Linked DNA regions of Homo sapiens: regions 1, 2, 3, 4 and 6 are each reported to be linked to region 5. The links are microRNA targets in miRTarBase. Many come from high-throughput screens and were not tested one by one. Region 5 holds a microRNA gene; each other region holds the end of a gene's coding sequence.
What was found. The annotated mature microRNA hsa-miR-4762-3p reads CUUCUGAUCAAGAUUUGUGGUG and lies in region 5 at 2,292-2,313, opposite strand. An mRNA with a match to its seed (bases 2 to 7 or 8) in the 3' UTR can be bound and repressed. Matches are read on the target gene's strand: a 7mer-m8 pairs with bases 2 to 8, a 7mer-A1 pairs with bases 2 to 7 and ends in A, and an 8mer does both.

Region 1: miRTarBase lists GLUD1 as a target of hsa-miR-4762-3p. Seed matches in the 3' UTR shown: 7mer-A1 at 2,745-2,751.
Region 2: miRTarBase lists C8A as a target of hsa-miR-4762-3p. The part of its 3' UTR that is shown has no 7-base or 8-base seed match.
Region 3: the mRNA of OSBPL3 is a reported target of hsa-miR-4762-3p. Seed matches in the 3' UTR shown: 7mer-A1 at 2,362-2,368 and 7mer-m8 at 1,515-1,521.
Region 4: miRTarBase lists STAC as a target of hsa-miR-4762-3p. Seed matches in the 3' UTR shown: 8mer at 3,858-3,865, 7mer-A1 at 3,232-3,238 and 8mer at 2,624-2,631.
Region 6: the mRNA of IKZF4 is a reported target of hsa-miR-4762-3p. Seed matches in the 3' UTR shown: 7mer-m8 at 1,257-1,263.

The regions. Positions count from the first base shown.
Region 1 is chr10:87,047,816-87,053,396 of GRCh38, forward strand. GLUD1 (glutamate dehydrogenase 1) reads right to left here. Exons shown (of 13, transcript NM_005271.5): 12 at 5,527-5,581; 13 at 2,387-4,055. The coding sequence ends at 3,936. Among named protein-coding and RNA genes, the nearest start is that of FAM25A, 30 kb to the left of the region's middle.
Region 2 is chr1:56,917,422-56,920,421 of GRCh38, reverse strand. C8A (complement C8 alpha chain) reads right to left here. Exons shown (of 11, transcript NM_000562.3): 11 at 2,199-2,857. The coding sequence ends at 2,706. Among named protein-coding and RNA genes, the nearest start is that of C8B, 47 kb to the left of the region's middle.
Region 3 is chr7:24,795,232-24,800,739 of GRCh38, forward strand. It overlaps OSBPL3 (oxysterol binding protein like 3), which reads right to left. Exons shown (of 23, transcript NM_015550.4): 23 at 1,309-5,048. The coding sequence ends at 4,952. It also overlaps a transcript of GSDME not described here. Among named protein-coding and RNA genes, the nearest start is that of GSDME, 41 kb to the left of the region's middle. RefSeq lists enhancers at 1-16, 17-522.
Region 4 is chr3:36,545,050-36,550,630 of GRCh38, reverse strand. STAC (SH3 and cysteine rich domain) reads right to left here. Exons shown (of 11, transcript NM_003149.3): 11 at 2,624-4,440. The coding sequence ends at 4,342. Among named protein-coding and RNA genes, the nearest start is that of STAC, 170 kb to the right of the region's middle.
Region 5 is chr22:45,757,304-45,762,884 of GRCh38, reverse strand. It overlaps MIR4762 (microRNA 4762), which reads right to left and starts at 2,361; the gene lies at 2,287-2,361. All of the region lies in intron 9 of ATXN10 (ataxin 10), which reads right to left. RefSeq lists a silencer at 1-76 and enhancers at 1-234, 4,220-5,218.
Region 6 is chr12:56,034,928-56,039,349 of GRCh38, reverse strand. It overlaps IKZF4 (IKAROS family zinc finger 4), which reads right to left. Exons shown (of 8, transcript NM_022465.4): 8 at 915-4,422. The coding sequence ends at 4,019. Among named protein-coding and RNA genes, the nearest start is that of RPS26, 4.8 kb to the left of the region's middle.

The DNA.
Region 1 (5,581 bases), not on the chromosome of region 5:
CTCATGCCTATAATACCAACACTTTGGGAGGCTGAAGCAGGTGGATCACCCGAAGTTAGGAGTTCGAGACCAGCCTGGCCAACATGGTGAAACCCCGTCTCTACTAATAATACGAAAATTTGCTGGGCATGGTGGCGCATGCCTGTAATCCCAGCTACTCCGGAGGCTGAAGCAGGAGAATCGCTTGAACCTGGAAGGCGGAGGTTGCGGTAAGCCAAGATCACACCACTGCACTCCAGCCTGGGTGATAGAGTGAGATTTCGTCTCAAAATAAATAAATAAATGAAGTATGTTTGATAAAAATACAAACACAAGTCAATAAAAGTCTGTTAAAAATATTAAAAAATCATAAAAACAATATTTTGTACAATATCCATAGATGTAGTTTTCTTCATGTGCCATGCTTTGACTACCTTAACAAACAGCAGGGCTGGGAAAGCCTGTCAGGGATGTTTAGTGAATATGGAATTTATTTGCTTGTGAGTTAACATGCCAGGCTTTTCTTTTTTTTTGAGACAGTCTCACTCTGTGGCCCAGGCTGGAGTGCAGTGGCGCAATCTCGGCTCACTGCAAGCTCCGCCTCCTGGGTTCACGCCATTCTCCTGCCTCAGCCTCCCAAGTAGCTGGGACTACAGGCGCCCGCCACCACGCCCGGGTAATTTTTTTGTATTTTTAGTAGAGATGGAATTTCACCATGTTAGCCAGGATGGTCTCCATCTCCTGACCTTGTGATCCGCCTGCCTGGGCGTCCCAAAGTGCTGAGATTACAGGCGTGAGCCTCCGTGCTCAGCCATGCCAAGCGTTTTTAAAAAAGTAAATCAGCTCTTTGGCTAGTCATGGAGTAAAAAAAAAAAAAAAAAGGAAAAGAGAAAAAATATAGAAAAAAGGAATGACCAATCCTACTAGTTAGGGTGCCAAAAGCACTGAAAATTCATGCCTTTACTTCTCATCTCCTTAATCAGGGATATTAGAATACACTGGTGTAGAGGCTCATAAAGCACCAGTTAAGTCTTCTTCAGGTGCTATATAAGTCATCTATGGCTATTTCAGAAGCAAGTAACTTGAGTATCGTGTGTGAGTTTTAAAAATAATTGAAAATAGGTCAGGCACAGTGGCTCACCCCTATAATCCCAGCACTTTGGGAGGCCAAGGTGGGTGGATCATGAGGTCAGGAGTTTGAGACCAGCCTGGCCAATATGGTGAAACTCCATCTCTAATCAAAATACGAGAAAATTAGCTGGGCGTGCTGGCACGCATCTGTAGTCCCAGCTGCTAGGAAGGCTAAGGCAGCAGAATTGCTTGAACCCAGGGGGCGGGGGGTTACAGTGAGCCGAGATCACGCTACTGCACTCCAGCCTTGGGGACAGAGCGAGACTCCGTCTCAAAAAAAAAAAAAAAAAAAAAAAAAAAAGAAAATTTCTGTCAAGGTAAAAAGAGTAATTGACCAGATTTTTAAAAACTAAAACCTTCAGGAGCCAAAATTACTGACACTAGTGCTCTCATCTTTATATAGCTAGCACAGGCAATTTAGTTTTCTAATATTACTATCAACAATACTCCTCAACATTAATCTTTAAAAAATTACCATTGGCCAGGCATGGTGGCTCATGCCTGTAATCCTAGTACTTTGGGAGGCCAAGGTGGAAGGATCACTTGAGTCCAGGAGTGTGAGACCAGCCTGGGCAACATAGGGAGACCTCGTGTCTACAAAAAAATAAAAACAATTAGCCAGGTGTCGTACCCATACATGTGGTCCTAGCTACTCAGGAGGCTGAGGTAGAGTAACTGCTTGATCCCAGGAGGTAGAGGATGCAGTGAGCCGTGATTGCACCACCGCACTCCAGCCTGGGTGACAGAGCAAGACACTGTCTCAAAAAACAAAAACCAACCCCCCAACCAAAAAAAAATCAGTATTTCCAATATATAGTCAAAGGCCACCACTAAGACTTATCCCACATTCACATGACTTAAATCTGCTGCCCCACCATTATTCTAACATTCTGGAACTGGTTTTTGTATCACTTTCCCCCTTACACATTTTAGTAGCCCACCTAGAGTGCAGATAGACACCACCATGCTGGGGAAGGGCTCACTATGCCCATATACTGGGGGCCTGTTTATCTGACTGACCCTATGCCAGGAGCATGCAGAGGCAGAACTGTGACATACGGACAAAGACCAAATGAAAGCCAGGCTTCACACTGGCAGTTAAGTAACTGGTGGAATCAAGTCTAGAATCCAGTTCTGATTACAGTTAGTATTCTCTCTTCAATAGTTGTTACATTCTGTGGCTAAATTATTCCACATTAAATCCCCTTTAGTGAAAAACGGCACTAAAAGTTACTTCACTATCAGCTTTCAACATTAGAGCCTCTTTCTCAAGAACAGCTGTTCATATTATTTAATAAAATACAAAATAATTCGAGAATAAAGACTATGCTTTCAGGGATCATTTCTATAGTTCGTTACTCGGGAAGTTTCTCTGAACGTGTAAAGCACCGAACAAAAAAAAAAAAAACAATTCAAGAATAAAATCTGGGCAGCTCACAATAAAGTGGAAGGAAATGTTATACAGGTGGTCGCTATAAACATTTCAGAAATCCAATTGCAGTATTATAACTTATGAAAAGAGAAACTACCACATGTAAAAACACAGAAAAGAAACGTAAGTTTTGGAAAACGTAGACTTTTAATAACTGCTTTTATCACCAGGTTAAGCCATGCAGTTACAAAGTAGTTAGAAATTTCTGAAGGGTGTTAGAGTTAAAAAAAAAAAAAAAGCTGACTCTTACACATATATTATCTAGCACTTCATGGGGACACTACTGTTCAAAAGGCCCTGGCCAAATAACTCCCAAATGAAACACTCAACCCAAGGATGTTTTCAGCCCACTGTTAGTGAAGCTGGGTGCAGAATGCAAAGCCTCTAAAAGGAGAGGATACAAAGTCAGGTGAGTAGGGGCCATTGGCAATGCTCAGAGCCAGCCAGACTCCAAACAGGGAGCCCAAGTGGTTTTTTTCTGGGACACTCTACTTGAATTATTGTTTAATTAGTCAACCATAGATCTTCAAAAGAGAACAATTAGTTAACATGATAAAAAGTGACTGCATTCTTTGGACTGTATCATAATTATAGTAAGCAAATTCTGACAGTTTTAATGAAAATAGCCTCCACCATTTTGCAGGTATGAAGATAACTTAATTATCCACAGGGCTTTTAATGTCTGCTGGACAATACATGAATGATAAGCTATAAATGACATTGTTTTATGATATAAAAATACTAGTTTTTTTCATTTATTATTTCTATAGGCATTCACTGTTTGAGTCAAGGTTAGGCTTGTTAAGTGATTAAAGGCAATTTTATTACAGCAGCATGTACTTATTCTATTCTAAAAGAATAATATTCATAAACAGAAACAGGTTTTATATTTGTTTGCAACCTGCAAAATTGAATTATTTTGCTGATATAAAATACTAAGAACTCACTTGAGGACCATGCCACCTTCTGAAAAGGCCACACACCTACTTCTTAAATGTGTTAAAGTTACAGTGTGTCCCAGACTCATCCAGAAAAAATAAGCAAGCAACTGACTGCTCTTGACTGTTCCTCCCCAGCACTAGCACTGATTGTGTTGGGAAAAGCCACAGAGCAAGGCTGCACAGCCAGATAAAGGAGGCTTTTTATTTAAAGGCAAAATACCAAAATGGCTCTCTGGTGTAGGTGATTTCTACTTTCACACTCAGCTTGTACATGATCCGCTAACCTTAATTTCTTTCTCCTTAACGGGCTGACTTGGATTGACTTGTTGAGAATGGTATCCATTATTAATGAGTCAGGAGAGAAAGGGATTTCTGTGGTTACATGTAAACTTGTGATAGGTCTGCAGAAGTTACATGTGAAGAGGATAGTGAGGAAGTCAGCCATGATCCATCTATGTGAAGGTCACACCAGCTTCATTGTACACTTTGAAGACTTTCTCAATGGCATTAACATAGGCAGCTGTTCTCAGGTCCAATCCCAGGTTATACTTCATGGCTGTGCGCATAATTTGCTGAAATGAAAGAGAAAATGCAGTGAAGATGATCCTGACTCAAGTGGCCAGGCCATAAACACACAAGGCCCAGACAGGCCTGGTCCAAGTTACCCTCTCATTGTTTCAAGGCAGGACTTGGGCAGCCAAAGACAAACTACTCTAGCAGCAGAACCTCTAGGCAGGAGGGCCTAATTCTCTGGACTTAACAATGGGGTGGCTGGGTGCGGTGGCTCACGCCTGTAATCCCAGCACTTTGGGAGGCCGACGTAGGCAGATCACTTGAGCTCAGGAGTTCAAGACCGGACTTGCCAACATGGTAAAACCCTGTCTCTACTAAAAATACAAAAATTAGGCAGGGGTGCGGTTGCTCACACCTGTAATCCCAGCACTTTGGGAGGCTGAGGCAGGTGGATCACTTGAGGTCAGGAGTTCGAGACCAGCCTGACCAATATGGTGAAACCCCATCTCTATTAAAAATACAAAAAATTAACCGGGTGTGGGGGTGGGCGCCTGTAATCCCGGCTACTCGGGAGACTGAGGAAGGAGAATTGCTTGAAGCCAGGAGGCGGTGGTTGCAGTGAGCAGAGATTGCACCATTGCACTCCAGCTGGGTGACAGAGCGAAACTCCATCTCAAAAAACTAAACAAAATGAAAACAAAATCAAAAATTAGTTGGGCATGGTGGCTCATGCCTGTAATCCCAGCTACTCGGGAGGCTAAGGGACAAGAATTGCTTGAACTTGGGAGGTGGAGGTTACAGTGAGCTGAAAGTGCGCCACTGCACTCTAGCCTGGGCAACAGGGCAAAACTCCGTCTCAAAAAAAAAAAAAAAAAAAAAAAAAAGGGAGTGATGAAAATGTTCTAGAATTATAAAGTGGTGATGGCTCAAATATATAATAAAGGATGCCGAATTTAATACTTTGAAAGGATGAATTTATACCACATACACCCTATCTCGATCAAAAATTAACAAGAAAAACAACAGCCCTAAGAAGCACCACCTTCTTCACCAATATCTGCTTATGCTATTTCATCATAAATCCAAGCAGATAGAATCTGAACCCAAGAAGAAATTAGGAAAACTGGACTCAAACTGTGGTTGAGGCCTTAAAGTAGGGATCAAGCAGTCAAAATAAGTTTTGCTTATACCAAATTCTATAGTAAGGTAGACTCCCGTAGCTATAACATAGTGGCACATGGAGCTACAATCCAGTTTGGCTAACTACTCCATACTGGGCTAGCTGCCAACATCATTACCTCCTAAATCAGCCTTATTATTTCTTTCCAAAGCCTCAAAAACATATTTGAAGACTCTAAAAAATTGCTTATCATCTGAGACTGAAAAAACATGTGTTTTGCTACACACAAATGAGGACCATTGAACAGATTGATGTTTTCTATCAGCACATACAGTCTGGCGGCTGAGATAGCATGGTTGAGTTGCACTTCATGTGACTAGCTGGAAGGCAAACAGCATCTGCACACATACCCTGGCAGAACGCTCCATTGTGTATGCCAAGCCAGAGTGCACGATGTCTTTCTCA
Region 2 (3,000 bases), not on the chromosome of region 5:
AGCCTCAACCTTGGCTGCACTTGGAATCACCTGAGGAACTTTTAAAACTAAGGATGTCAGGCCGGGCGCAGTGGCTCAAGTCTGTAATCCCAGCACTTTGGGAGGCCGAGGTGGGTGGATCACCTGAGGTCAGGAGTTCGAGACTAGCCTGACCAATATGGCGAAACCTCATCTCTACTAAAAATACAAAAATTAGCTGGGCATGGTGGCGTGCACCTATAGTCCCAGCTACTGAGGAGGCTGAGTCAGGAGAATCACTTGAACCCCAAAGGCAGAGGTTGCAGTGAGCCAAGATTGTGTCATTGCACTCCAGCCTGGAGACTCTGTCTCAAAACAAACAGACAAACAAAAAAACCCCAAAAAACTATGGATGTCTGGTCCCTACACCCAGTGATTAAGATTTAATTTGTTTCGGGTGCAGTCTGTAGACATCAGGGTTTTGAAAACTGCTCAGGTGATTGTAACATACAACCAAGTTTAAGAACCACTGTTTTTTTAGGTCAAGATCAAACGTTCTCTTTAAAGTGCCCACGTGGCCTGGCATATTTGGCCCTTGGTCACTTTCTAGCATGTAACTGCCACTACTCAGTAAATAATGAATGTAGGTTAATTATTAATGTAAGTTAAAAAGTAAAAAGCAAATTAATGACAGGATGAAAAGCAATAGGAGAGTTTTTTTTCTTCTTTCAGGTAGAAGATCTAAAGAGTTCAGAAATTAACTTCTAAATCACATTCTTTAATTAATAATAGTCTTAATAATGATGACGATAAGCATGAGGGTAATAATGTCCTGTATGACAGGCATAGTGCCAAGTGTTTTATATGCCTTATTTTATTTACATGCATTATTTTCCTCACTCCCCTTTCCTGACACATACGCACCTGCATGCACCCCCAAATGTCTTTCTCACTTTCAGACTTTGTCTCATGCCGAATTTCTGTCTGAGAGATCTCCTCCCAGTTTGCCTAGTTGAAAAGTCCTTCAGGGCCTGGGGCAATCCCCATGCCATCCACAATATACACAGTAATGGAAAGGTAAATCTCTCTCCCACCTGGCCTCCTTCAGCACTTACTTTGTGTGCTACATATTTTAGCATTAACTCAACAATTAATTTCCCTAAAACCTCCTCTAGTTGTTTCAGGTACATAATTCTTATTCTGACTTTAACAAGATTGAGGACTCTGGAATGACTTGAAGCATCAATATATATGTTAGTCACCAGACATTTCTTGAGTACCTACTATACACTAGGATTGTAGATTTGGCCTTCAAGGAGCTCAAAATCTAATAGGGGAAACTGATGGATAAACAGAAAATTCAGTGCTACCTAACATGTTCTCTATTTGAGGCATGACTGGAGGGCTGTGGGATTCTGAGGCTGGCTGGTGTGATTGGCCTCCCCTAGAGATGGGTCAGAGAAGGCGGATTGATCGTCACTAGTTGGCCTCTTCAAATCCACTCTCCACTCTGGGAGGCTGACCAATGTGTACCTCATCTATGAACTGACTCTTCAATTCATTCACTTATTTAATCACAGCTACTTACTAAGTCCCTGCTACATTTAAGGCACAAGCCTGACCTCCGGGGCTACAGTGCTAAACAAAAGAAGCCTGACTTCTGCCCTCAAGATTATTATCTCTTAGGAAGAGATAGGTCTTACATAGTCACAGGAGATGTGGGATTAAATATATATGCTATGATCTGAACATTTGTGTCCCTTCAAAATTCATATGTTGAAATTCTAACCCCAAAGTGATGGCATGAGGAGGTGGGAAATTTGGGAAGTGACTAGGTCACGAGAATGGAGCCCTAATGAATGGGATTAGTGCCCTTAAAGAAGGGACCTAAGAGACTGCCTAGCCCCTTCTGCCATGTAAGGACACAGCAGTAAGACAGTCCTGTAAAAACTAAGAAGTGGGCCCTCACCAGACACTGAATCTGCCTTGATATTGGACTTCCCAGCCTCCAGAACTGTGAGAAATAAATTTCTGTTGTTGATAAGCCACCTAGTTTATGGCTTTTTGTTATAGCAGCCCAAATAGACTAAGATAATATAATTACTAGTTGTGAAAATTGCAATGTAGGAAAAGAAGTGTTCCATGAGAAAATAATCAGGAGAAATGTCACATTTGTGGTAAGAACTTAAGGGAACTAGAGAGATTAATTGAATTAATAAACGAGTTCAAATGAAGGCAAATTGAAATAACTCAAGTCAATTTTTAGTATTTTTCTCATTGTTTCAGAGTGTCTGCTTACCCTACCAATTAATAATGTTTCTATGAGTGAACAAATTGTTATCAAAGAACTAAGAGAATTTTCATCCTACTTTGTTTTATTGGGCGTTGATTGTTTCAGGTGTCTGCTTGTTTTGTCTCTAACATCCTGTAAGTTCTCCCTGGTCATGGATTGAGTTTTCTCAGTTTTCTATTTTACTTTATTTTTTTGATGATCCAAAGTGCTGTAAGTAGGACAGAGCTTCTAGTTAACAGTCAACATCCAGTTGCTGAATAAAATGATTGAGTTTTGTAACTAATAGAATAGTTGGCTGTAGACAGCAAAACCTAGTCTTAGGCCTGGAAGCTGGCAGAACAAAGAAAAAAGTGTGCTGATTTGCATCTTCTCTTAGTTGAAAGAAGTCTTTATCCAATAGTCAGTGCAGGGGTCGACATCCACAGCATCTGGTCCAGCCTGTGTCCAGAGGCCCTCAGCAAGCCTGCGTCTGTACTTTCCGCCCTGGACACGAGGCCCCTCCATTCTGAGGTGCTGGATTGTCACACTCTCTTCTCCTTTCCTGGATGCCTGCTCTGCATACAGACCAGGAGCTCCAGCAACTCCAGCTCCCATCTGCTTTGGCTCCTGCAGAGGAAATTTCCCAGGGAGGAGAAGGTTAGCATATGGCTAAGAAGGAAGGGCCTGTCTGGTGATGAACAGGGAGGGGTGTGTGGCACCCTTGGGAGAGGAACTGGCCTCCCCTCCTCTGGTCGACTGCAGCTTGTTGG
Region 3 (5,508 bases), not on the chromosome of region 5:
TTCACTAAAGCCGGCAGGAGTCCCCCGCAGGGATGTTCCACAAGGCAGGCCTAAGCCTCCTAAGCAGTTGCCTCCACCGCCCGGTAATCACCTCGCTTCCAGGTCAGGGAACCAAGAAATGTAGCAGGACTAGCTGCAGACAAAACCCCTCAGACACCGAGTTGAGGAAGGAAAGGGCTTTATTCTGCCAGGAGCATCGGCAGACTTACAAAACCGAGCTCCCCGAGTGAACAATTCCTGTCCCTTTACAACTAAGGGGGTCTGCGTGAGAGGGTTGTGACCCATTGAGCAAGCAGGGGTACGTGACTGGGGGCTGCATGCACCGGTATCAGAACGGAACATAACAGGACAGGGATTTTCACAATGCTTTCCCGTACAATGTCTGGAATCTATAGATAACACAAGCAGTTAGGTCAGGGGTTGATCTTTAACTACCAGGCCCAGGGTATGCCCCCGGCTATCTGCCTGTGGATTTCATTTCTGCCTTTTAGTTTTTACTTCTTCCTTTGGAGGCAGAAATTGGGCATAAGACAATACGAGGGGTGGTCTCCTCCCTTATGAACAACACAGATTTGAGCTGTGTGGGTTCAATTATACTCAGATTTCCTCCTGCCTGTGCCACCCCGAAATAACAAGAGCGACCCCTCCTCTTCCTTCTCCTCAGCCTGCTTAACGTGAAGACGATGAAGACAAAGACCTTTATTGTGACCCACTTCCACTTAATAACAGTATATGTATTTTCTCTTCCTAATGTTTTTCTTCGTAACATTTGCTTTTCTCTAGGTTTATTATAAGAATACAGTCTATATTACATATATGATACAACAGATGTGTTAATTATCTGTGTTGTTGGGAAGGCTTCTGGTCAACAGTGGGCTATTAGTAGGTAAGATCTGGGGGAGTCAAAAATTCTGTGTGGATTTTAACTGCATGGGGCATTGGCACCCCTAGCCCCTGTGTTGTTCAAGAATCAACCGTAATATTTTCATAGCACACTGGAATCGACAGAGGGGCTCCTGGGGCTGGAGGTGTCCTGTCTGGGGCTCCAGTTGCCTCAGTTCTCTCTTCCAAGGGCTGAGGGGGTTCTACAATTGTGGCGTGCCTTGGAAATGTTAGGGGAAAAGGTATGGTGACTCGATGGTTTCCAAGTGTTTTGTGTCCCAGAGTATTCTTATCTCCAACCCCCATCACTTCCAGTAACCTGGTGTGTTCCTCCTTGAAAGAGTTCAGGCATGGGTCCTGTTCTGTTCCCTTTTAGCAGCCAAATAACCTTCCCATTAACCTGGAAAAACAAAGACAAAAGTGGCCTTTTTTTCCATGTTATTTATTCACATTCAACTAGCTACATGAGGGGGATAAGCAAATTAATAGGAGCTTTTTGGGGAGGCAGAGGTATGGATGGAAGGGTGGGATTAAAACAAAATAATTTTCAGTGGTTAAGTGGAAGATTTACAAATATCCATTAAAAAAGTACCCTCTGGATAAAATAATCAGAAATAAAATAAATTAGCCACTTCTGATCACTGCATTCCCCAAAGTCTCTGAAAATGGTTTGCACTTTAGACTGTCATGATTTGCAGATATTTACATGACGCAGGTTTCCAACACAGAAAAATGAAGACTAACACTGAGTAACAGATTAGTACAATGCAGAGGAAAATAGAGCAAATGAAAATAGCTATCATCTGGTAGCAAAAATAGATTTATGCCGGTGTTAATATCAAAATAAAGACATTCAAACAAATTATGCCAATACATTGGAACTATTATTCCTAAGACCATAAGGACACCTTCTTATTGCTTCTACTCATAACTAAAAGGTCTGCGGAGATTCTGTAGTAGCCAGAAGGCATAACTTGTAGTGTATGTAGTAGGGGCTACATCAAGGTTCAACAGCCAAATAAAAACTTTATTACTTTTTAGGCTTGACATCTTTAACAGTAGAACAAGATCACTCATGATAAATCTGGAAGATGCAGATGGAAGACAGTGCTTGAAGCCCAAACAAATGATTTACTACAAGTAATTAAAAGCAGAATATGAGAAAAGCAGCAGTGTAAATGACGTAAACATTAAAAAATATATTAGTTTGTATATTTCCCCCAGGAAGTCTCACAGGAAGCACAGGACACCTGTGCGGCTGTTTGGGCATCCTGGGTACTTCTTGCCCTCAGGTGAACTCCCATCTCTTTAGTTAGGACCAGAATCCACCTGGCTTGTAGGAGAGGAACTACATGGAGAAGCTGCATTGAGGCTTTTATTATTAATACCTATGACTCAAGGAATACCAGCCTTGGGGTGCTTTGGGGCCTGGGGAGGGAAGTGACTGGCTCTCCTGCTACACTGGAGACTGTTAGCTCATTTCTGAATGGATTTCCTGCAGCGTGGGGTAGTCGACAGCTGTGACAGGAACATTACCTGAAGTGCAGGGTGGTTACCTGCACAAAGTCCCATTTCCAAAAATTTCTGTGTAATTCACCAGAAATTTTGGATGGAATAATTAGAAAAAAAAAAGAGGTTAAAACATGTAACTCAAATGGTACAGTGATTAGCATTATTTAACCAGGAGATTTAAAGTCCAGAAAATTAAATTCTACCTTGGTTCTTCCCAAATGATGCCACGTTTCTGTTTTCTTCCTCTTAAAACTATAAAATGTCCTAGAGACATACATTTGGGGGAAAGATGCTTTTGAGAAAAGGGACAGAAGGAGAAAAGAAGTCATTTCCCCCTCAAGATAGTTTTAAGCTTATAATATCAGGATGCATCACCAAGCTGTTTAAATTTCAGAAAAGCCCTTTATAGATGCTAGTACTGACTAGATTTTAAAATCTGCATATAGTTCTCTATCATATTTTAATTCGTTCCCACCCCCATCTCAAATAAGATGACTACAGACGTAATGTTTCATCCAGTTGTCCCTGGGACTCTAAAATAAAGCATAAGGGCAAGTGAAATAACATTAGGATAATTAAAGATTTTCCAAATGCCACATGACAGTGCTACGTCCATTCAGGCTGTGCATTTTGTTTTCGTTGCTTCTTTCTTTTTTGAGCCAGTCTCTGGAGCAGGCCAATTTAACAGCCAATATTACCACGATTCTACATTTATCCTCACACTGTGGAAACTACATTTGTTTTCCCCTTGAGTGCCCTTAAATCTACAGCCTGCTTCCTCATGTCTGTGAGCAGAATTTGGATAAATGCTTGAGATGGAAAGAACAAAGCATACACCAAAGAATCTGACTGTGTCATTCAACTGCTTAGAAATGGAAATGATATTCACATTGTGTTCATCTTGGCATCTCGATAAAATGAATCCAATATTTAATGAGTTGTTTTAAAATGCCAGTCACGTGCAGATTCCAGAAGGCTACACATCCACTTTAAATAACTCTCCATTTTGAAAATGCAATATTGTCCAACTGGTTATTTGGTGTGACAATGAAAAATCATGCATTCTTTTCCTGTAATTATTTTACTCTTCATTCATAACATTCGATATGCTCTGAATTTCTTTAAGTATCTCAAAGTGTTTTCTGGAGAAATCTTTTTACTACATCATTATACTTGATATTCCATAGCATTGCTATGGACTTTAGAATAAGAGGCTTAACAATTAGGCTTTGGTTTTAATGTCATCTGGACAGAAGTTGGACATGCTTTGATAACACAATTCAACTACTACACATATTATTGTAATGTGAAATAACACATTTAAAAAGACGAAGGTTCCCCTTTCAGTAGTTATAATCTGTATTATTCAAGACTGCTGCAAAACTCACAAAAGAATGATATGGATAACAAGAAAGTATAGGAAAGGGGTAAGACACTCACTTAAAGCTTTACCAGAACACAACACAAAGCAAGAACATCAATTCTCTACATTTGTCTATAAGGCAGATGGCAACTTTTTATACAAGATCTAAAATATGGTGCTTATTAAGAGGTAGAAAATACTAAAACAGCATTTAAGAAAAACATGTTGAGTTATCCAAAACAATCAGTTATTTTGCTAAACTTTTACAAAGTCAAACTGCTGTGTGGAATAAACTGTATGTTTTATATTAAACTGGGACATTCCATACTCAACAGGGAGGTGATCAAACGGAGGGACAAAAAACGGGGTGGGGTGGGAAGCAGGAAACAGTCTCTTAACTTCTCAAGGACTCAGCTCTCACTAAGGAGAAATTTCCTACTGTCTCTCTGGGATGCTATTGTGATATTTAATTAATTGGAATTCTTTTCTCTTATGAATAATTTCTCTGAGCAACAGGGTACAATTTTGCATATAAGGCAATAGAACTATAGGGAGGAACAAGTTCAAATGCTTCCTTTTCAAGAAGGTGCCGTATACGTCTTATATAAAAATATACATTCCATTAATCTTATATCCTCTCCCTAACCACTAAAATGCAAATGAAAATATTCTTCAGACTCCAGCACCAGCAGAATTGTTCTGTATGAGCAATTCAAGAGCTGTCTGAGGCAAAAAGATATTTCAGCTACCAAATTAAACTTGGGTAGCTTACGCATGGGTGAGTAACCCTGGGAATTCTTATTTCTTAATGCACCTGGGAGAGGTTGATTTTTTTTCTACAACATAATTTTATAAGGCATAAATTTAATTGGAATCTTCCCTAACCTTTGGAAAATTAGTGTTAAAGCTTCTTTTTTTAACCCACACATGAACATTCAATCTTTCATTTTTATTAAATAGTTTATATATAAAAAGAAATGTCAAGGTGTTCTACATTCATATAAACAATCAGGGTAACATTTGAAATTGTAAAGAAACGCACTGAGGAAAATATAGACTTAAAGAGTTACAATGCTAAGCTAAGCACAAGTGATCATCCTAGAGTATCTTTTAAATATATAAACACAGGTTTGTGCCACTTCAGAAGGCAAGCACAGGAGAAATACACTAATGTTATCTTTCTTCTTTACTTTTTCACCATAAGACAGGATGGTCCAGTTTGGAAAAACCAAGATCTTTTCTAAGTTCCAAATAGGTGCCGTTGCTCACCCAAGAGTCATCGTCGGATTTCCTGTGAAAGAAGAAACAATTTCTTGCAGACTCTTGAAACCAGCGTCACATTCTCAAGTCTCTTTCCTTCCTAACCTCCCTGCTTTCCCCATCCTCATTCCCACATGCATTCAGCGTCCCAGAGTGTTGGGACCGGGAATTCTGGGAATTAGATGTCCAGAAATAATTTTGTTACTTTTTTTTTTTTTTTTTTTTTGAGATGGAGGCTCGCTCTGTCATCCAGGCTGGAGTGTAGTGGCATGATCTTGGCTCACTGCAACCTCTGCTTCCCAGGTTCAATCGATTCTCCTGCCTCAGCCTCCCGAGTAGCTGGGACTACAGCCATGTGCAACCATGCCCGACTAATTTTTGTATTTTTAGTAGAGACGGGGTTTCACCATGTTGGCTAGGCTGGTCTAGAACTCCTGACCTCAGGTGATCCACCCACTTCGGACTCCCAAAGTGCTGGGATTACAGGCATG
Region 4 (5,581 bases), not on the chromosome of region 5:
TGCTGGTGTTTGCTACAGCTATCAGTGTGATAAAACTAATCTTTCTCTGGAGTTTTTCACTCTTGGAGTATACAGATTCATACTTTAGCTTATTCTCCTACCAACTCAGATCCCAGAATAGATTGTCTTCATTCTTATCATTAGGATTGAGTGCTTTTGCCCTTTGTAAGTATTTCAGTGAGATGTAGGAAGAGAGGGGATAGTAGAAGCATAGGGGCTATTGGGTGATCTGATATGAGAATGCTTTACTGCAGAATTTCCCAAAGTATGTTCCTTGGAATGTTGTTTTAGGAGAGTCTTATAGGTGATCCACAGTTTTAAATCTCCTTTTTGGAGATTTACTATGAGAATTAGCAAATTAAAGGCTCTGAGAAGTCCTGAGTAAAGAAGTCAAGTTCACTTTATTTAAATCTCAGCTTTTTTCTCCCACACACCACTTTTTCACAGCTGCATTTCTGACTGGACCTGGCTCTAGGCTTAGGCTGGCCAGTAGATTTCCTTCTTGGCTCTCTCCTCCTTGGAGTAGCCAATTTCCTGGACAACTGGCTCTTTTGTCTTTTAACAGTACTTGGCACCAAGGTGTTGTGATCTTCCCACTGGTTTTTTCTCTCTTTAATAGCAAAGAACACTAACTCTAATAGATCCTGCCATATTCTCTCCACTACCTGCTCTAAATATGCAACCCAAATGCTGGACCCTTCCTCTTAATGGGAGTGAATTAGTGTGTGTGTATGGGTGGTCGTGGTGGTGGTGGTGTTTGTTGTGTATTTGGGAAGGAAAAGTGGTCTGTGAAATCAACCATCTGTGAAATCTAGCCATGTGGGTATCTGTCTGTGAAATCTAGCAATCTGGATATCTACACATGGGCTCTCTTTGCCACCCTGCTGCCCATGTGAGAGGTGCTGTAGATGTCTGCTAGTGATGGGAAGTAAAGGGAGTTCTATTCTCCACCTTCTGGAGCCCTGAGGAAGGTTCACTCAGTTCTTCATTTCAAATTTACTATAATAGAAGTAAAGTCTTATGGCACTAGTGATGAAGTATAGGGCATATCTTCCCTGGTGCAGCTAGGTATGTACCATCCCTTGGCTATAGGCAGGGGCAGAGGTAAGGGGGTACAAGGCTGTTTTCGTACACTACAAAGCATATCCCTCAGGTCCCCTTTTTATTCTTCATATGGACACTTCCCCTCCTTCCCTGTCTCCTCACCAGAGTATCTCCTGAGATCTTCATCTCTTCTCCACTCAAAAATTATGGTCCTTCTTTTAGCCATTTTCTGAGTCTTGCAAACCTTTAAGACTTTGGTAGGCCGTAGCTATCCTTGTGCTTTTAATTTCTGCAGACAGGCAAGAAAAAAAAAGCTGTGGCTCCTAAAATCTCTGTGTTTGTGTAAGCACTCATGGAAATCTATACTATGAGGAACATCTTGCTTTTTCCCTTAGGTCTGGATGACTCCAGATCTTTAGGGAATACTACATATCTTGTATTTAGAGGGATAATTGCCTGCTAACACTTGATGTTTGCAACGCTTTTGGGCCTGATTGTGTAGAAAGAGCATTTTTCTCTTCTAACATTGACTTAAATTACAAAACCCCTGCTTCTGTTATCTGTTTCTGTATAACAAATCACTCCAAAACATAGTGACTTAAAAAATCCCCACATAGTTATCTTGCTCATAAATCTGTAACTTGGGCAGGGCTCAGCAGGGACGACTCATCTCTGCTCTGTGATGTCTGCCACCTCAGATGATGAAATATGTAGTCTTTCCACAGGGTCTTTCCTGCATGGTGGCCTCAGGGTAGTTGAAATTCTTATGGTATCTCAAGGTTCCAACAGTGAGTGTTCCAAGAGATCAAGGCTAAAGCTGCTTTTAAAACTTAACCTCAGATGCAATTTGAGATGGGGTCATTACTATGTTTTGAATATAGTTTGTCCCCTCTGAAACTCATGTTGAAATTTGATTGCCATTGTGGCTATATTGGGAGGTGGGCTGAATGGGAGGTGTTTGGGTCATGGGGAGAATCCATAATGAATAGATAATGCTATCCCACGGGTGTGAGTGAGTTCTTGCTCTCTTGGGACTGGGTTTGTTACTTCAAGAGTGAGTTGTTAAAAATCAAGGCTGCTCCTTGTGTTTGGTCTCTCTCTATTTCTTTGCACATGCCTACTTTCTATTCTGCTTCTCTGCCGTGTTATGATACAGCACATGGCCACCACCAGAAGCCAAATAAATGCCAGCGCTATGCTTCTTGGACTTCCTAGCCTCTAGAATTGTCAGCAAAATAAATCTCTTTTCTTTATAAATTAACCAGTCTCAGATATTCTGTTATAGAAACAGAAAATAGACTAAGACAGCCTTGTAGTACTACTTCTGCTGTGTTCTATTGGTCACATAAGACCAGCCCTGATTCAGTGTGGGAAGGGACTACACAAAGGAAAGAATATGAGGAGGTAGGGATCTTTGGGAGACTACCTTGGAGGCTAGATACCACATCTTCCTTCTATTCAACTGTAAAAGGCAAACTCATTTTTAAGATTCATCTTAATTAAACATGCATATGATGTGACATCATTGTACCAAAAAGTTAATGGATATCATGACAGAAAGAAGAGATCAGGACACATGTTTCTGATGCTCCTTTCCAGCCACTGTATTGTTTTTATTAAATGGAATACTGAATTAGAGGCAAAGAGCATTTGTACTAGGCATCCAATTTTACAGAAAGGCAGTCATATGATCTACCCTGGCTCTCAAAGAATCCATCTTGACATCGTACACCTGGTTTTGCATGTGGCATCAGAGAGGGAGGAAATTCTGGATGCTGGCTTTAAGATAAGAGTAAGGCATCCAAACTTCTGTGAAACCAGCAGCCATCCCCTCTCAGTTCCCAACTTCACACTGAGCGGGAACAAAAGAAATAAATGGAGATGAATGATGCTTTGGTTTGGGAAATAATGCTTACATGCATAGGATGCATCCACTTAAGTCTTTTAAAAACCATTGTTCTAATGATTTTATTGCTCTGTAACAAAATAAATCAAACTGACATTGATTCCAAGGTGATTGTGAATTGAAGTTTAACCATGTTAATGACTAATAGGATGGAAGTTTGAATGCTAGGAGGCTTGAGTAGGAAGGCATCACAGTATATTGCATTCTTGTAAACATTAGTATAAGTACAGAGTAATAGAGATTCCCCTAGATGATGCTAATTGGGCCCCTAGTTCCTCTACTTTCTGAAGGAAGAAGCATTAGGATTCTTTTCCATTTTACATCTGCTAGGATTTCATATACTGCCCTAAAGAAGAATGGACTCCAATTTGGCTACATTTCTTCTAAGATGCTGTTGTTGGTTCCCCTCCATGTTCCTAGTTCCCTGCAACGTAGGCACAACCTTCAAAGTGGAGTCCTATAGGACAGCATGAGGGAAAAGTGCTGCCTCCAATAGAGAGGATGTAAAATGAAAATGGAGACTTTTTGTGATAGTCTCTTCCCCAGGTCCATTGCCTTCAAGCAGGGACTTCATAACCGAAAGGGCTGTATAATCTTCAATAAGTAAGAACTCTCTGCTCCACCTTTCCCCACTTCTCCTCCCCACTGTATCTATGTCTCATGTCCTGCTCTGTCACCCAGGCCAGTACCTAGAACAGCAGGAAGGATGGCCTGTCATCAGTCTTTAGGCAGGTCAGGTCTTTGGAGGTGATGCCATGTCAACATAGCCCTCACATCTAATGCACACCACCAGATGTACTCAGAGGACTGAAGAGAAAGAAAGAACAAGCTGGACACTCTGGACAGCACAATCACAAAGAGAGGAAGCCTGGAGAGCACTGGAATGCTGGGGGCTGGGAAGCAGGTCTTTCTGATGCTTTGCACAGAGATTGCTTGGGGCCTGAAATGTGATGACACTGACTGATTGGTACTGGTGACATAGGTCTGGAAGCAGGATAATACTTAGCTACATGGATCTGAACCTTGCACTGGGCTACCCTGCAAACTGGAGCACACTCCAGTGTGTTAACTTACACCACACAGACAGGAAAGGAGTGGGATCCTGGGGGACAGCTGTGGTTTATAGTCCTACTGCTGCTGCCAAGCATGGCATCTGGCTCTGCCTGCTGACTCTCTCAGCCTCGTCCCCACCTGTGGCAGCCTGGATATGCTGTGCAGTGGGCCCTCTGTTTTGTGGCTATTACTCCACAGTCTCAGATACTTGATTCTTGTCTCACTGTTTCCTGGGGGGCTGGGTCAGTGCGGCAGCTCCTTTGGGTTGACGCAGTGTGAGATGAGGCAGAGGCATCGCAGCAGAGCTTGCCTACTGCAAACGGAGGAGGAGCCAGCAATCAGATGTTTTCTAGTACATCAAGGGGGATGAGGCCTTTCTTTTTTCCACTGAGGACTCTGATAAAACCATCTTGTTCTTCTTCAGAACTCACGCAGATCTGAATGCCAAGGAAGAAAAAAAACAAAATACTTTACTGTCAGCAAGAACGAAGTTAGAACCTGCAGCTTGAATCCCTGCTGACTGAGGTTGCAGGAGCAACAAACTGGAAAAGGGAGAGCAGTTTTAGGGTGGGAAACCAGCACAGTGAGAAAAAGGTTTGATAAAAAATTAGGCAAAAACCTAGGTTTGGAATGAGGCCCAGGCATTGAATGTTTTCTGAAATTTAGCTTTATGAATGAGGATCAATAAAATGAGGATTAATAGTACTGTGACCCTCTGAAGAGTCACTGTGAGGACAGAATGAGATAATAATGTTTGTCAAGGAGCCTAGCATGTGGCATGCAATGAATTCTCAGGACATTATTTTAAAGGACCAAAATAATAGCTATCATTCAGCAGACTCCTGTCATGTGCTCAGAATTTTATATGCACCTCATATAACATCAGGAAGTCAAAGGGAACTATTTCACTCCTGGCCTCAAGCAAATAGATGCTAACATTTCCCATATTCTAAAGTAAGGCCACCTATGCTAGACTTTAAAAAGGGGTTGGTAAACATTCATTTGGATACTCTTGCCACTCACCACTCATTGGCCACTGAAGGGCATAGAAGGGTGGATGTGGGCAGATGAAAATTAGAAGAGGTTTATGAACAGAACTATTGTTGTGTTGTGAGTTTCTCTTGCCTCACCTGCTTCCATGGATGACAGGCCTTGTCTTAGGTTGGATTCCCCAGAAACAGAACCTGACACAGGGTTCCTTGTACAAGTGACTTATTGAGTGGGTGCTCTCAGGAGGTGGGAAGTGAGGGATGCAGGATGGGGCAGGGGAAGGAGCCCAGCAATGAGAGGTTTTCAGCTGGAAAGCAGTCTAGCTTGGTTCGCCTGGGAGCTCTGGAGCATGAATTGCATCACAGAATTGTCTCACTTTGAAGCTAGGGTTTCAGACTTTTGAACCCCATGTCAGTCAGTCATTGGCCATTGGCTGGCCTGTAGTGTGATGGGCATAACCTTCCAGGAGAGAGGGTCCTGCTGTCTCATAAGGCCCTCCCTGAGAAGGGCAGCTGTGAGTTGTTCGTGGCCAACATAGCAACTGGGAGATGAGTGCACCCACCTGGTGAAAGGGATCTGAGCAAGGCT
Region 5 (5,581 bases):
GGGACTACAACAGGGATGGAGACAGACCCAAGGGAAGCCACGCAATTACTCTCACTTGGAATTTGGAGCCAAAACACAGGGGGAAGGCATCTGTCAGTGGGGGCTCCACAGCAGGGAGGGGAGGATGTGGAGAGATGGCTGGGGCCATGTGAGGTCACCAGCCTGGAGACAGGAGTAAGAGTGAGGTGGCCTCTGGGGGACCAGGAGGCAGTCCCTGAGGCCTGGAAGCCCCTTGGTTCATGCTCTGGGAGTCTGTGCTCTCCCTGTGGCCTAAACACATACACTCTTGCCCAGCTTCCCTTCAGCCAGCTGGAGAGCGAGGAGGAAGCACCCTGGCCAGACAGGAGCATGCCTGGGAGCCTCCCAGGAAGACACAACAGGTGTGCAGACACAGGTTCGGCTAGGGTGGAGCCCACCAACACTCAGCCAGAACATGCACCGTGGAAAGAATCCTGCTGCTGTGGTCTGCTTCTGACTGAAATCAACTGCTTTATCTGCTATCTATCATAACAAAGATAAATAAAAAATGAGATGTAGTCATGAAGCGGGAGTGCCTACCCTGGGTCAGGCCCTCTGTCAAGCAATGCAAAGACAGAGAAAAATAAGCCGAGGTCCCTGCGCCTCCAGAAAGAAACGCACGCTGGTCAGGGGAAACAGACAAAGGGCAAATAAATAGAAACACAGTCTCGGAAACGCACAGGGGACAGAGACTGACTTCCTTTCTACCTGTAATGTCAAGCTTTTCACTTTTTCTGCAATTGTTACAAGTAAAATACTATCTTTTATGAGTAACTTTTGTTGGTTGGCTCACTTAAACCATAAAGTGAAGTAAAAACATATGACTAAATAGGAAGTTTTTAAAAATCAGAAAACCTGGGAGTCAGAAGGCTCTTAAAGGCGAATATGGTCCATTCACCTGCTTCAGTTAAGACCACAACTACTTCATCCCAGTCAGATGTGTTTTTTTTAAAAGCCAGATTATACTTTAATCTATTTAAGTATAGTTTCAGCCCAACTGCACTGAAATCAACCTTTTCTGTTTTAGCCAACATTTTAAAAAATCTAACACAATGGTCTAATTTTTTAAAATTTTAATTAAAGGCCCATTTAGAAAAGTAACCAACTTTTGATATTCCCTGAGGTGGAACTTAAAACAGATTTTAATGTAACTGCTAACAAGGACTAAGCAAAAACTGGGAAGAAGTGTATGATAAAAAAATAGATAAATAAAGAGCAAAGGCTTGCATAAAATGTTCCAGTCACTGGATTATAATGCTTCGTTACATTTGATTTTTACCTTTTCGAGATTATACCTATGATACTGTATTACAATTTAACCAGTTATCACCTAGTCTTCCATAAAGGTTGGTGAGAAATGAAAATTAAGTAAACACAGTATTACATAAGTGCTTAGAAAAGTTTAACTGTGAAAACAATGAACAGATTTAAAAATATTCATTTGTTCATCCCTAAAAGTTTACAGAGCACTCACTGTGGGCCCGGAACTGTGCCAGGGGCCCTGGAGAGAATGAGGAGCAAACAGACATGGAGCTTACATGCTAGGCTTGTAGTGTTTTAGATGGTAATACAGTCTCTGCTCAAAATCACCAATATAAAAACATTAAAGTCCCAGCTACTTGGGAGGCTGAGGCTGGGGAATCGCCTGAACCTGGGAGGTGGAGGTTGCAGTGAGCCGAAATCACGCCACTGCATTCCAACCTGGCGACAGAGCAAGACTCCGTCTCAAAAAAATAAAATAAAATAAAATACTGAGGTCACCCTTGAAAACATAAGCCAACAATGAAAATTCAACTTCTTTCCCAAAAGGAAAACAACAATAATGAAACAGAATAAGCTACCTGAAAGAAAGCTTCCTCTTTCATTACTCTTTATCAAATTACTGTCTCTCACATATGTCCTTTTATTTCCAGGCTTATCACCACCCTCCAACCAGGCCTCCACTGCTGTAGCAACCTTTTAACTGGCTCAGGAATCCACTCCGCACACTGGGGCTCTTATCAGTGAGGATGGGCTGGTTCGTGCTGCAGTAACAAACAATCCACAAAAATCTAAGAGGCTTAAAATGAAAGTTTCTTTCTTTCTCATGCCACTTAACAGCTGTGTGGCCTTGGGTACACTACTGAACCATTCTGGCCCTCAGTCTCCTCATCTGCAACATGGGAGAGGTATCATCATTAAATGAGGTAAGAGACGAATACTCAGAACTGTGCCTAGGACACAGGACACACTCAATAAGCAACTACTATTGCTGTAATCGTTGTTATTCTTGACACCACAAATCTTGATCAGAAGCCTTCCTAGCTTCTGATCAAGGCTTCTGATCAAGATTTGGGGTATCAGAAATAATGGGATATGACTACACCCTATCATCTAGCCATCTGTCTCCCACAGTAGATCATGAGCTACTTGAGAACAAGGACTGCCTCTGACTCCACTGTTGAACTGCAGAGGTTCACAGAAAGTGGCACATGGTAAGCACTCAGAAAGTGCTTGCTGCACTAAAGGGAACGATGTTGAATAATAATCACTGGTACGTGAATAAACCCCACATGTGCTGGACATACACAGAGTCCCATATTAATGAGGGCACACTCTCAGATGCATCTGGCCCGCAGGAAACCTGACTAAAAGCACATGATGAAGATAGGGAATGTCATCTGTAGGTGGGAAAGATGGCTTTACAGGCCCAGAACCAAGCCACAGTTGAGCTAGGCCACCAGTACATGGGCTACTGCTCCCAGGGAAGTCTAAGCAAACGAAGGAGGATGTTCCACGTTGTGGAATTAGCACAAATCTATCTCCACGTGGGGAAAGAATGTAATTCAAGATTCCCCCTGTTCCTCCTTCCTTTCTTAGGGCCATCATTCCCCTGCCCCATGCTCTCCTGGCACACTGGCACACAACAGCCAGCATGGAAAAAACTTTCTGAGGGGATAGAGGTGCTCTCTGTACCTTGACTGGGGTGATAATTACACAGGTGCAGACATCTGTCAAAACTTATCAGCCATTCATTAAAAATCTGTGTTTAGCTGTATGTAAATTAGAAAGAGAGAGAAGCAAGCGATGGACAGTGCTGACTGTTATATGGTCCCTTAGCTCATGCCGGCAGCTGAGGTGTGACCCCATCCCACCCCATCCCCTACAAAACTAGAGCTTTATGAAGGGCAGGGTGGCTGGGAGGGAGGAGCTGATGCAGCTTGGTAAACTGGCCTCTGGAGGACATTATGAAACCTTGCTCATCCTCGTGCAGCCTCAGCTCCCTCAGGAGGCCTTTCCTCCTGCTTCATGGCACAAGAAGAGTACGGAACCCTCACCCTGATCAGACTGCTCTAGAATCTTTTTTGTTTGTTTGTTTGACACGGAGTCTTGCTCTGCCCAGGCTGGAGTGCAGTGATGCTATCTCGGCTCACTGCAACCTCTGCCTCCCGAGTTCAGGTGATTCTCCCGCCTCAGCCTCCCGAGTAGCTGGGATTACAGGCATGCGCCACCACGCCCGGCTACTTTTTGTATTTTTAGTAGAGACAGGGTTTCACCATGTTAGCCAGGCTGGTCTTGAACTCCTGACCTCAGGTGATCCGCCCACCTCAGCCTCCCAAAGTGTTGGGATTACAGGTGTGAACCACCATGCCCGGACTCTAGAATCTTTTACTATTTATCATTGTCCCTCTAAGCTTCAAGTTACTTGAGGGTGAGGACCTTTTCTTCCCCTTCCTTCTCTCCAGCACCTCGCATAATGCTTGGCACACAGTGTGCTCTTAATCAATATTTGTTTCTCTGGCAGTAAGTTTCTAAAGTTATCTTTAAAGATATGAGATATACTGCCTTTAAATAAGAATGGTACTTCTAAGTAAGAATAATGTCTAAATTACATTAAATCTTGTTAACTCTAAAGATTTAAATCTCTTCTTTTTTGGAGAGGTATGACTCCTACTGTCATGATTTATGACTCCATAAAAGCCATGTATTTACTGGGCAGAATAAACGGTAAGCTTGGTATGCATAACACAGCACTAGAATTCTTGCTATAAAGATTACTGATGCCTCAGGCTGTTATAAACGAGATGTCACATGAAGCTATGCATCAAGAGCTTGCCCTGAAGACAAAAACATCGCATACTGCTCTATCAAGTCCACGTTCAGTTACAGCTCCTGGCGCTCCGCAGTGGCTATGTGTATGCACATGTGCGTGTGCAAACACATGGCCAGTGTGTTTAAATGAACACCTGGCAACCCAAAAACAACATCTTAAAGATAGCTGTCAGAGCATGAAACATTGCACTAACCAGGAACTTCCATGGTTGTGGATTAGCAGAATAACACATCAAAGCAACCTTGAATTACGTGTGATATGCCTTAGGAAACTTCAGTTTCTGATGACCAATAATTTGAATCTAATCTTTTGAACCAAAAAGAATTATGTATTTTGTTCCAAGCACAAAGTCAGTGGCTATAGCTCAAGCCATGAATATGTAATTTCCTAAAAGTAAAACTGGTTTTTCTGAGTCTTCATATGTATTCTAAATGGCTAGAGAAGCCTGCAGTTAACAATGGTGGTGCTCCATGGAGGCACTGGTGGTCTGTCAAGTACCTATGCTTTCCACACGCTGGCTCAGCTAACTCCAAACAACCCTGCAGGGAGACTGTGGCCCTGCTCCACAGCCGAGGGACACGAGCAGTGTGGACGACTCTGAGCCAAACGTCAGGCGGGAGCTGCGGAAGCTCAGGACAACAGGGGCTGGCAGGGGCAGGGTGTGGAGGCAGCACCAGGTGTCCCCTACCCACTGCACGGGGCTTCCTGACGCCACTGTTCTGGTAACGAATAGTTGCATCCGTCTCTGCCATATACTTTGGAAGCATCAAATTTAGTTTGAATTTGTGTGTCATCACAAAAGCTCAACTTTTTTTCTTCTTTTACAAATTTCAAAAGAAGTAAATAGTATCCACAGCAGAGGTCCAATAAATGCCAATTTTATAAATACAGGCTCAACGAATATGACTGGAGAAAGTGTGCCAGAGTTTATTTCTCTAATAAGTCCAAGTTGAATCATGTAAGAAAAGTACTAATAGAGAATAATTCTTAAAAGAGAATCAAACATGAATGAATATAACTCTAATCACATTTTTAATAAATATAATTTCAAAACAATATGACTTATAAGGTCAGCATATGAAAAATGTATTGAATCCTATGTGTATGTAAAAAAAATTTTATCCCATCCATATTTACTAATACTGTACTAATGTTTTTTTTTTTCTAAAATGGCTAGAAATGATTTTTCAAGATTAAGAACAAATCTATCTTAGAGAATACAGAGAAAGAACCCATTTCTTTCTCCCTCCAAAGTACTGAATGAAACATCCACACCTCCCTTTGGAACATTCTCCAGAGGCCTTGAACGGGGAGCAGCGAAATCCTGAATCCCAGCCTGGGCTCCCACCTCGGAGCCTCAGGCATTTTCTGTCCCTGCTCCCAGCCAGCAGGCGCTGCTGGGCCACACTGTTAGAATCAGCTGGTATTGCTCCAGTTACACTGAAGCTCTGAGGCATTTTTGTTTTGTGT
Region 6 (4,422 bases), not on the chromosome of region 5:
AGCTAATTTTAAAATTTCTTGTAGAGATGGTGTTGCCCTGTGTTGCTGAGGCTGTTCTCAAACTCCTAGGCTCAAGTGATCCTCCCAAGTAGCTGGGAGGACAGGTGTCCTCCACCACTTCCAGCTTTCCTGTCTGTTTTGACTTTGAATTTGCCAGTTTCAGTGGGACATGGAAAATAATAGACTCTAGATAGGAGTGTCTCTAATTTTCACTTCACTGTAATCTTGTGGAAAACAGAAGGCAGACATTACTATATGGAATAGCAATGAGGTAGATGGAAGAGAACATAAAAAAGTTCAGAGTGAAGAGAACAGAAAATAGTTACTATTTAAGACAGAAACAAATTTATGTTCCTACTTTGGATTTTTCTAGCTTAGGGGTTTCACTGGCTGCATTCCCTGGCATAAAGCGATGAGCACATGCTTTGGATCACACACCCCTGGGTTCAAATTCTGGTTCTGTCACTTACTGGCTGATGAGCCTTGGATAAGGTATTTATTCTCTCTTGGGCTTTTATTTTTTTACCAATAATTGTGATCATCCTTTTGTAGGTGTTTCTACAATTCAATGAGTACTTAGCATTTATGAGATGCTCAAGCAGTGGTAGACCCTATGATTGTCATCATTCGCATTATTTCACCCTGGGCATAGAATGTGTTTTGTGCACAGTAGGTACTCAACAAATGTTTGATTAATTTCTACTTTGGGTAGACAGGCAAGTCAGACTTTCTCTCCTATCCTGAAGGCACTCCTTCCTGGTAGGAAAATCTCCTCCATTTCCCAGTCTAGGCTGAAAATTCTTCGTTTTTGTTTACCTCCTAAACTGTTCAGTAGTTGGTATAACATACTGCAAGGAGGACCCCTCCCTCTTAGTAGAAAAGCAAGGCAAAGGAAGTCTGCAAAAACAACCAGAGGTGTTAAATTACTCATGTTTATTTATAACAGACTTTCAGCCAGTACAGTACAAAACTTACAGTAGTATATCTCCGTTACACAAATATTTACTTACAATATATTACATATACAAAATGCTTTGCAATAAGTCTCAAAAGCTAGTTTAACTCCCCTTGAGAAAGGAGAAAAACTCTTTAAAAAAGGGGGGGAGGGGAATCAGAAGAAGAGAGGAGGAGGTGAAGGGGTAAAGGTCAAAAGAGACACCAAACATAGGCTACAAAGGAAACCCTAGGAGAGAGGGAGAAGAGAGGTGGTATTGCACTTGCTTCTGTGTTTATTTTTTCTTTTTGTTCTTCATAACTTCTGATTAAAAATATATATATATATGTATATATATATATTATGTACACAAGGAAAGAAGCTGCCAGAAGTATTACAAAATCCTATCTGCAGCTTGGACACTGACACAAAAAAACAAAGGTCTGGAAAAGTGTCTACTTAGAAATATTTTGTTGGTGGTATTGATTTTGAATAGCAATATAAAAGGAAACACCTCTTTTCTCCATGTGGGTTTCAGTGTGTGTGTATTTTTTTTTCTTTTTCTTTACTTTTTTTTTTATGCAAAAGGAGCTGGGAGAGAGCATGAGGATGTTTGAGGTTCCAGAGCTGGAAGGCTCTGAAAAGTAGGATTTTGTACCTAAGACCCTGGTTAAAGTGCAGTGATGGTCTGGAGAGAGACAGGATGCCCCCTCTCCCCTCCTTAGCACCTGGTCTTGCCCTTCCAGTCTCTGCTCTCATGGGCACAGAGTATAGCCTCAGAGCATAGTCCTTCATGTTCCGGGAGGTTACAGGTGCCACAGTTGACTGGGGAAGGGGATGGGGGCACCCTAAGGCTCTGATACCCCAGAAGGGACTAGTCCTTATGAAGTGTCACCAAATACACAGCAGACACAGAAGAGGTGGGAGGCGGTAGGTCTAACAGGAAGGGCTCAATAACCAGAATAGTTCAGGAAAAGCCCAGATATTAATCTCAGCTCTGCTGACATTCTAAAAAGGAGCTAGCACCCCAGGGTGCCGTTGAGGATTCTTCCTTTCTCTAGAGACTACTCTGCTCTGAGCTAACCTCCCCATTTTCTGCCCTTGGCAGCATCTATTTATTGCTACATTGTCAAGGAGGAACAATTGCCCCACAATGCTTCTCCCTGCCAATCTGGTTCTCTTGGGGAAACCTCAGAGTGGGGGAGAAAAAGGAGGACAAAGAGGAGAAAGTTTTTTAGGGTCTCCCTTCCCATAAGAAGGCAAGGTAGACTCCTCTCAGAGCCCTTAAGGCCCTAATCCCAGGGTCTGTTCCTTAGCCCACCCTTTACCATCCCCCCCCAAAATATCCCTGATAGGGAGTGAGAAAAGTAGGAGGTAAAAGAGCCAATAAGGAAAGGACATGTGGAAAGAAAGATGGAAGGGGAAGGAAGGGAAGAGAAAAGGAGAGAGAGAAGGACCAAGAGTTACAACTTGTGAGGTGTTGTGTTTGGTTTTTACTTTTTTTTTTCTTTAAACATAGAAAAACAGCCTTTGGTTTGAATCTCAAGGAAGCAGAGAGTGGGATGGCTGTGGCCTTGGGCAGAAAACTCTTGTAGAAAGAAACCTCCACTTGCAGTGGAGTTGTATCTCCTTCTGCCCCTTCTCACTAATCCTAGGTTACTCAAATAGCCAAGGGTCTCTGCAGTAGCCAGCAGTCCCCCCTCCTACCCTGTGTCTGGGAGCTGAGTGTAGAAGGGGGTAGTAAAGGAAGACCCCAGTTCAGTTGTACCCATCCCAGTCTTGCTGGAACAAGGGTGGAATGGGGTGAAGGGCACGTGCCCGTGCTCATGCTGGGATAATTTTTGGTTATACTGAAAATTAGAAGAGAGAAAAGAGATACCCGTTTCTCCCTGCCACTGATCCTAAGAACAGGGCCCAGGAGCCCGGGAATGAGAGGGTGAATCCTGCTGGGAGGGAGCAGCAGAAGGCAGCATGACTGAGGGGCTGAAACAACCCCTTGTCATCAGGCAGCAACCCACTAGTTTCTCATAGGATGGGGACTGAAGGAGCCCCTGAGAGCCTAGGAAGGTCACTATAGTGAAGAAGTTTGAGAGGTGGAGGAGAAAGAGAAGAATTTTGACCCACTCCTTTCCCATGCCCTGGTTCCCAATTAGGCACCTGTGGCTCCCAATCTGTCAGAGACAGAGGGTTGCAGACCTAGCCTTGGCCCCTGAGAATATAAAATTGGGGCACTCCAAGGAGAGAAAAGCCACCACTTAATAGACCGGTAGGTTGAAGGGACTAGAGCGTGTGGAGGGGTAGTTCAAGGAGAGGGACCAGATCTATCACATCCTAGAGGGAGATCCTGAATGTAGGCTTTGAGAACTCATATTACTAGGGGAATATGACCTATTACTAGGGGAATAGGACTCTCAGTCCCACAGTGCCTGGGGAGAATTTCTTCAGTCCCTCCTACTTCCAAATGAGGAAATAATTCTTCATTCATTCAAGAATAGTGCAAGCTGCCTAAAGTGAGAGGGCACAAGAGGTATGGAGTACCAGGTTGAAGAGTCCCAGAGAGGAGATATAATGCCACAGAGCTAAGGTAGGGCCGGGGGCAGGTATCAGCATCAAAACTGAAGAATTAGATAATGTAAAGGGTGAGGACTTAAAGCAAGAAGCTTGAAGTCTCTTAGTACTAAGAGGAGCTTCCTACCCCTGGGGCTGCTGGAAGATCTAAGAGAGAAAAATTGGCCTAAAGTGGAAAGGAGTTGTGGACAGGAGGGTGGGGGAGTGGCAAGTGACTGATATAAGTTAAAATTTAAAAAGGCAAAAATAAATCAACTAATTAATAAATAACTCAGTATGCTGGGATGAGAGAAGATAAAAAGGAAAAACATAAGCAAAAGATCTGTTTCATCACAATGCTTACATCGGTCAGGATAGAGGAAGAGAATAGGTGAGGAGGGGTCAGGGTCAGGTGTGAGGTCAGGTGGCCAGTAGTGAGGGCTACAAAGCAAAACTCCTTGGGAAATGGTGGGGACAGGGATCAATGCCTGTAGTCAGGGCAGTGGAGTGGTGGACTGAGGAGAGAGGGAGAGGTTGCTAGCCCACCTTATGCTCCCCCCGGACAATGTGGGAAGAGAATTCGTACCGGTCCTGGCTGTGATAACCACAGATGTTGCACTCAAAAGGGTCTCTGAAGCCATGGCAGCCCATGTGGATAGTGAACATGACGTGGTCCAGGAAGAGGATACGGCAGTGCTCACACTTGAAGGCCTTCACAGGCTCACCACTCTCGCCCACCACCCGAAGCACTTCCTTGGAGGGGCCTGGGGTGCCCCGCAATAACCCCTCCTGTGGCTTGGGGTCCTCTTTGGCGTAGGCAGGACTGTGCCGGCCCACCACAATGGTGGGAGGTGGCTGGGGTGGGGGACCCTGAGGGAGGGATACCACCCCCGCAACCCGATCTTCGTGGTTGCTTTCTGTGTCTGTGGAGTCCTGGCAGC